Homo sapiens: one gene and its partner. The protein of the gene in region 1 interacts with the protein of each later gene in a pairwise test. Each region holds a gene or a part of one and is shown in the gene's direction. Other genes may lie near its edges. The genes, in order: SEPHS1 and SPACA9.

Evidence for each region.
Region 2: the proteins of SEPHS1 (region 1) and SPACA9 interact in a two-hybrid assay, tested with the Homo sapiens proteins (one large-scale study listed by BioGRID and IntAct).

Annotation. Positions count from the first base shown.
Region 1 is NC_000010.11:13,324,293-13,328,110, reverse strand, and holds part of SEPHS1 (selenide, water dikinase 1), read left to right. Parts: intron 1-3,818. UniProt on the Homo sapiens protein: Synthesizes selenophosphate from selenide and ATP.
Region 2 is NC_000009.12:132,885,373-132,889,190, forward strand, and holds part of SPACA9 (sperm acrosome-associated protein 9), read left to right. Parts: intron 1-1,996; coding exon 1,997-2,199; intron 2,200-2,917; coding exon 2,918-3,239; 3' UTR 3,240-3,818. UniProt on the Homo sapiens protein: Microtubule inner protein (MIP) part of the dynein-decorated doublet microtubules (DMTs) of multiciliated respiratory cells and the distal singlet microtubules of monoflagellated spermatozoa.

The DNA of each region.
Region 1 (3,818 bases):
AAAGCGTTTGTGTGGGTTACCTATGTAAGATTTGGAAGCAAACCATTCAGAATGGAAATTTAGAAAGTTTAAGATACTGGAGCTATTTCCAGAACATAACCTTGGAAGTCTAGAAGTGCCCCCACTCCCACCCATCCCCTGCATTCCTGCTTAGGTGTAACCACTGAATTTTGTGTTTATTTTCTTGCATTTTAGAATATTTTTATTGCACAGCCCTTGTGTTCTTAAGCAGCAAATTAGTTTTGCATTTTTTTTACTTGTTTTGTTCACCATTGTTCCTGAGAGTCTCCTTGTTATATGTAGCTGTAGTAGATTCCTTTTGGCTGTGTTGATTTTTCCACTGGCTTCTCTGCTCTCCTGTTTCACACTGGGGCGACTGCTATGGACTTCCTTGGCCCAGCCCTCTGAGGCACGTGTAAGAGATCAGTACTGGCTCAGCTTTTATAGATAGTGCCAAACTGTCTTCCAAAGTGTTCACCACAGTTTACAATGGCACACTATGTTTAGAAAGCGTTTTTTAATATGTCTTCTCTTCCCATTTATTTTATACATTTTTTCTACTATAAAAGAATTACATGCTTATTATAGAAAAGTTTTTAGAAAATGGAAAATAGTACAGAAAAAAGTTGTCCATAGTCCCTCCACCCAAAACAGCTCCGGCTAGCATTTTTATGTATTCTTCCAGGACTTTTTTTCATGTTTGGCTGGTGATTTACTATTGTTGTTTTAAAGTAGTGGTTAGTATAAGTTTTCACTATGTAATGGTTAGTATATGTATTTGGAGTGCCTGCTTTTGTTGTTTTGACATGACTAATGTTTCCCATATTATGTATCCTAGTAAACTTTTTTTTTTTTTTTTTTTTTTTTTTTGAGACAGAATCTAACTCTGTCGCCCAGGCTGGAGTCCATTGGTGTGATCTCGGCTCACTGCAACCGCTACCTACCAGGTTCAAGCAGTTCTGTTGCCTCAGCCTTCCCAGTAGCTGGGACTACAGGCACGCATCATCACCATGCCCGGCGGATTTTTGTATTTTTGGTAGAGACAGGGTTTCACTATGTTGGCCAGGCTGGTCTCGAACTCCTGACCTCAGGTGATCTACCCTCCTTGGCCTCCCAAGGTGCTAGGATTATAGGCGTGAGCCATAGTACACATAATTTTTAATGACTAGATAATGTTCTACCAGAGAAATGTACCACAATTATCTTTTACCTATTGTTTTACAATTCATTTGGAAATAAAAATTTTCTGTAATTTGTTGTTACTTGTAAGAAAGTTATAGCCAGGCACAGTGGCTCACACCTATAATCCAGCACTTTGGGAGGTTGAGGCAGGAGGATCACTTGAGTCCAGCAGTTGGAGACCAGCCTAGGCAACATAGTGAGACCCCATCTCGTCTCTTTAGCTGCGCCTGGTGCATTCCTGTAGTCTAAGCTACTCGAGAGGCTGAGGTGGGAGGATTACTTGAGCCCAGGATGTTGAGACTGCAGTGAGTGGTGATCATACCCCTACGCTTCAGCCTGGGTGACAGGGTGAGATCATGTCTCAAAAAAAAAAAAAAAGTTATAGATCAGAGGAACAGAATAGAGAATCCAGAGGTAGGTCCATATTATAGTCAACTGATTTTTTTTTTTTTTTTGAGATGGAGTTTTGCTCTTTCGCCCAGGCTGAAGTGCAGTGGCAGGATCTTGGCTCACCGCAACCTCCGCCTTCCGACTTCAAGTGATTCTTCTGCCACAGCCTCCCAAGTAGCTGGGATTATAGGCGCCCGCCACCACGCCTGGCTAATTTTTGTATTTTTAGTAGAGATGGGTTTTCACCATGTTGGCCAGGCTAGTCTTGAACCCCTGACCTTGTGATCCGCCTGTCTCGGCCTCCCAAAGTACTGGGATTACAGGCGTGAGCCACTGCACCTGGCCTAGTCAACTGATTTTTGACAAAGGAGTAAAGGCAATTCATTGGAGAAAAGAGTCTTTTCACCAAATGGTGCTGGAACAAGTGGACATTCACATGAAGAAAATTATTCTGGATGCAGATCTTATACCTTTCGTGAAGATTAACTCAAAATGAATGTTTAGTGTGTTTTCACACTGCTATAAATAGCCAAGACTGGATAATTTATTTATTCATTTATTATTATTATTATTATTTTTTTTTTTTTTTTTTGAGACTGAGTCTCTTTTTTTTTTTTTTTTTTTTTTTTTTTTTTTTTTTTTTGAGACGGAGTCTCGCTGTCGCCCAGGCTGGAGTGCAGTGGGGTGATCTCGGCTCACTGCAACCTGTGCCTCTCAGGTTCAAGCGATTCTCCTGCCTCAGCCTCTGGAGTAGCTGGGATTACAGGGCGCACGCCACCACACCCCACTAATTTTGGTATTTTTAGTAGAGACGGGGTTTCACCATGTTGGTCAGGCTGGTCTTGAACTCCTGACCTTGGCCTCCCAAAGTGCTGGAATTGCAGGCGTGAGCCACCATGCCCAGCTGACTGGGTAATTTATAAAGGAAAGAGGTTTAATTTACTCACAGTTTCACATGGCTGGGGAGACCTCAGGAAACTTACAGTCGTGGCAGATGGTGAAGGGGAAACAGGCACCTAGGTTCTTCATGAGGCAGCAGGACAGAGAAGAGCAGGGGAAACTGCCACTTACAAAACCATCAGATCTCATGAGAATTCATTCACCCTGACGAGAACAGCACGAGGGAAACCGCCCTCATGATTCAGTCACCTCCCACCAGGTCCCTCTCTTGACATGTGGGGATTACAATTCGAGATGAGATTTAGGTGGGGACACAGAGCCAGACCATATTGATGATTCGTAGACCTAAATAAAACACAACAATATAAAACTGGAAGAAGGTAACATCAGAGAAAATTGAGGTGGCTTTGGGTTTGGTGATGACTTTATAACACCAAAAGCACTATCTATTAAAAAATTGCTAAGTTTGGCTTTATTAATATAAAAAACTTCTGCTCGGTGAAAAACACTGTTAAGGAAATGAAAAGACAAGCCACAGACTGGGAGAAAAATTTTGCCAAACACATACCTGTTCAAGGTCAGGTATCCAAAATATACAAAGGACTCTTAAAACTCAATAATAAAAAACAACTCAATTTAAACATGGCCCAAAGACCTTGACAGACACCATGAAAGAAGATAACGCAGATGGCAAATAAGCATAAAAGGAAACCTTCAGTGTGGTACGTCAATAGGGAACTGTAGATTAAAGCAGTGATTGAGATGCCACCACATACCTGTTAGAATGGCTAAAATCCAAAACACTGAGAATAGCCTGGGCAACATGGTGAAACCCCATCTCTACCAAAAAAATACAAAAAATTAGCTGGGCATGGTGGCTTGCGCCTTAGTCCCAGCTACTTGGGAAGCTGAGGTTGGGAGGATCCCTTGAGCCCAGGAGGTCGAGGCTGCAGTAAGCTGTGATCGCACCACCTCACTCCAGCCTGGGTGACAAAGCGAGACCCTGTCTCAAAAAAAACCCAAAAACACTGATAATACCAACTGCTGGCAAGGATGTAGAGAAACAGGAAGGAACTCTCATTTATTACTGGTAGGACTGAAAACTGGCACAGCCACTTTAAAAGTCAGTTTGGCAGTTTCTTATGAAACTAAATATGTTATTATATGATGCAGCGATTGTGCTCCTTGATATTCACTCAAAAAAGTTGAAAACTTACATTCACACAAAAGCCTGCAGACAAATGTTCATAGCAGCATTATTCATAATTGCCAGAACTTGGAAGCAGCCATTCATTTCTTCAGTAGGTGAGTGGATGAATGGATAAACAAAATGTAGTGTATCTGTA
Region 2 (3,818 bases), on another chromosome or scaffold:
TGTGGTGGTACGCGCCTGTAGTCCCAGTGACTCGGGAGGCTGAGGCATGAGAATCACATGAACCCTGGAGGCAGAAGCTGCAGTGAGCCGAGATCGCACCACTGCACTCCAGCCTGGGTGACACAGCAAGACCCTGTCTCAAAAAAAAAAAAAAAAAAAAAAAGTTAAATGTACAGAAAAGGAGCACCCATATAACCCTCACCCAGATTCACCGACTTGTGACATTTAGCCAATTTAGCCATATTTGCCCACGCATGCAGCCCCTGAGCTATTGGAAAATAAACTTCCTCTTCTGTAAACCTGGACTTCGGGGGAAAAAAGAAAAGAAACTGCCTACATCCTTTTTAGTCCATCCTCCAGAAGCTTCAAAAGTCAACAAGTGTCCCTTCCCAGAATCTACATCCATGCATAAGGGAGTGGCCTTCTTGCCTTAGGTTCAGCCGAAGGCTCTTGGTAAACAGTGGCCTTGTGTTCTGAGTTGCCTCACCCCTCCCCTGCCCTCCCTGAACCAGAAGTGTCCAAAGGTTCCCTGCACACCGCCCCCCACCCCCGCAATGCTCTGTTGTAGTTACACCATGGGGCAGGTTCCTCCTCCTCGACCCCTACAGGTGCCTTTGTGGGTATGAGTGTGAAGAGCCTCTCCCCCTTACGAAGCTGCTTGTGCATGGCAGTCCTTGGGAAGGAACCACTTCAGATTGTTTGGGGAAACATCCCCTAGCAACAAAAAGACAAACGGTTACAGCAAGAAAACCCTGATTTAGATGTAGACCTTTGTGGGTGCTGGAGGAGGTGATACCTGCATCTGTCATCAGATTGTGGAGAGTAGAACCATCTGACTACGAAATGGGTCTGTTCATCTGGCCTGGACCACAGCCAATTCCTCCCTAGCTCGAGATCAGACCTCCGGCTCTGGCCCAACCTCAGATGCAGTCACTGGGTAACCCCATAAGCTCCACTTACTGGCCTGCCCCTCCTTCTCCACCTTGTGAACACAGTACGGCTGAAGCCCAAAGGATTCCAGTCCCTGCTGTTTCCCTCTCAGTATGGGTGGCCCACGCTGGAATTTCTCACAATGAACCCTCTAGAAGTGGGATGACAGGCACTGTGGCATTAAGTCAGGGGGCAGCCCCCTTTTGCTTTAGGCGGTGGTTGGTTCAGGTGGCAGGGGACAGGTGAGGGGTAGGGCACGGAGCCACTGAGCTGGGGACACCCAACTAAGCCACTGGTGCCCTGGGCGGGTTATTTCACCTCTGCAAACCTCCAGTGTTCATGTCATGGTACTGATCTGTAAAATGGGAATTTAAAAAGGTACCTGCTCAGTGTGTAGGGTTTAGATGAAGACAGGCGAGAGCAGGCCCGTAAAGCATTTTGCATGGTGCCTGGAACACTTGATTTTATATCCATCTATCTATCTACCCATCCATCCGTCCATTTAATTTAATTAATTTTTTGTTTTTGAGATGGCATCTTGCTCTGTTACCCAGGCTGGAGTGCAGTGGCATGATCTCGGCTCACTGCAGCCTCCTCCTCCCGGGTTCAAGTGGTTTTCCTGCCTCAGCCTCCCGAGTAGCTGGGATTACAGGCACGTGCCACCACGCCTGGCTAATTTTTTTTTTCCTAGTAGAGATGGGGTTTCACCATGTTGACCAGGCTGGTCTCGAACTCCTGACCTCAAGTGATCCCCGCCCACCTCAGCCTCCCAAAGTGCGGGGATTACACGTGTGAGCCACTGTGCCCAACCGATCCATTAATTTCATATCATATCTATCCATCCATCCATCCATCCATCCATCCATCCATCCATCCATCTATAGAGAGAGAGATACCACTATATAGAGTGGTCTGTACCTTAAAATGCTTAAGCGTTACTTGCGTCTCCCCCATGAGTCATGTAGGGTGGGAGGGAGTAGGGTGGGTGCTTCTGGACATTTGCACCATAAGCCAGCCAGGACCCGGGTTGGCATGTCCCCAGCTCATGTGGCGGCGGCCCTTGCAGGTGCAGAGCTACATGGAACACTACTGCAACAGCTCCACAGACCGGCGGGTTCTGCTCATGTTCCTGGACATCTGTTCAGAGCTGAATAAGCTCTGCCAGCACTTTGAGGCCGTGCACTCTGGCACCCCAGTCACCAACAACCTCCTGGAGAAATGCAAAACCCTCGTTAGCCAAAGCAACGACTTAAGCAGCCTCAGAGCAAAGTAAGTCCCTCTGATGCTGCTCTTGAGGCCCCGTGTGTGCCTGTGGGGAGGCCTCTGTCCTGCTTCTTTCCTGTTGCCTGGATCATGGTGCTCCTATTAGACCACCCCGGGCAGGAAATCCCAGTCTCCACTCATTTATTGGAATGACTCGGATTCAACAAAACCTTTTCTTTACAACCATCGTAGACATGGCAGGACACCAGGTGTCTCACGGGTGTTAGCACCAGGCAGGTGGAGAAGGGGGTGTAGAGCCCAGAGCAGTTGCCCCCAGAAGCCCACAGAGATCCTCACTGACATGCAAAGAAGTGGACACCAGAGCCGCCTCCCAGGGGCAGCAGCACTGGCACTGAGGGCTCCTCATCCTGACAGCCCGGGAGCCTGCAGCACAGTGGGCCAGAGCCTGGGGAAGCTCTGTAGATACCAGGGTGAGAAGAGCCAGAGGGATGAGCCAGCCAGTTCCTCACCCCTAACCCAGGTTTCTACGGACCATGGGGCAGTGGTTTGCATCTCCTGTCTTTCACACCAGAATTACCTGGGGCTTGTGGCACCCCAGGCCTGGTCTGCCAGAATCTCTGGGGACAGAGCGCCTCAGCGTGCTGTGTGTCCAGTTCTAAAGCCTCCCCAGGTGACTCTGCTGTGCCTGAGGTGTGGCAGCTGCTTGCCACGGCATGGCAAGTCCCGGGAGCATGGGTTCACCTGGCCCCCTGCCGTCCTGCAGATACCCTCATGATGTGGTGAACCACCTCAGCTGTGACGAGGCCCGGAACCACTACGGCGGCGTGGTCAGCCTCATCCCCCTCATCCTAGACTTAATGAAAGAATGGATCGCCCACTCCGAGAAGTTGCCGCGCAAGGTGCTGCAGCACGTGAGTGAGCCCCAGGCGCACCAGGAGAGCACCAGGGGAGCCGCTCGTCCTGCCCAGGCCATAGGGACCCAGCCCAGGGCCACTAAACACAAGTGTAGACAGCTCACAAAAGCCAGCCTCAAACCCAGGGGATGTTCAAAACCACCCTGGAGGCCTCCTGGTGGGAAATTGTAACTCAGAGCCAGGAGCTCCGTCGGCGGAGAGCTTTGCTGTTTAATTTGGATTTTACTGGTTGGTCCTTTTTTCACTGGTACCCATGGACCCTGCCACTTACTAACCCCAAGGGAATCAGCCAATATATTACTGAGACTTCCTCTCTCTCTTCTTGCTTTAACTTCTTTTTTTTTTGAGACGGAGTCTCGCTCTGTCGCCCAGGCTGGAGTGCGGTGGCGCAACCTCGGCTCACTGCAACCTCCGCCTCCCAGGTTCACGCCATTCTCCTGCCTCAGCCTCCCAAGTAGCTGGGACTACAGGCGCCCACCACCTCGCCTGGCTAATTTTTTGTATTTTTAGTAGAGACAGCGTTTCACCATGTTAGCCAGGATGGTCTCAATCTCCTGACCTCATGATCTACCCTCGTGATCGGCCTCCCAAAGTGCTGGGATTACAGGCGTGAGCCACAGCGCCCGGCCCTCTTGCTTTAACTTCTAACATTTCCACTTCTAAGCATCAGGCTCCGTGCTGATGAAGAGGAAACCCACTTACAGAAGTTGCCCAAACAGGATGGTGTGGTAGAGGGTCCCAGGAGGGCAC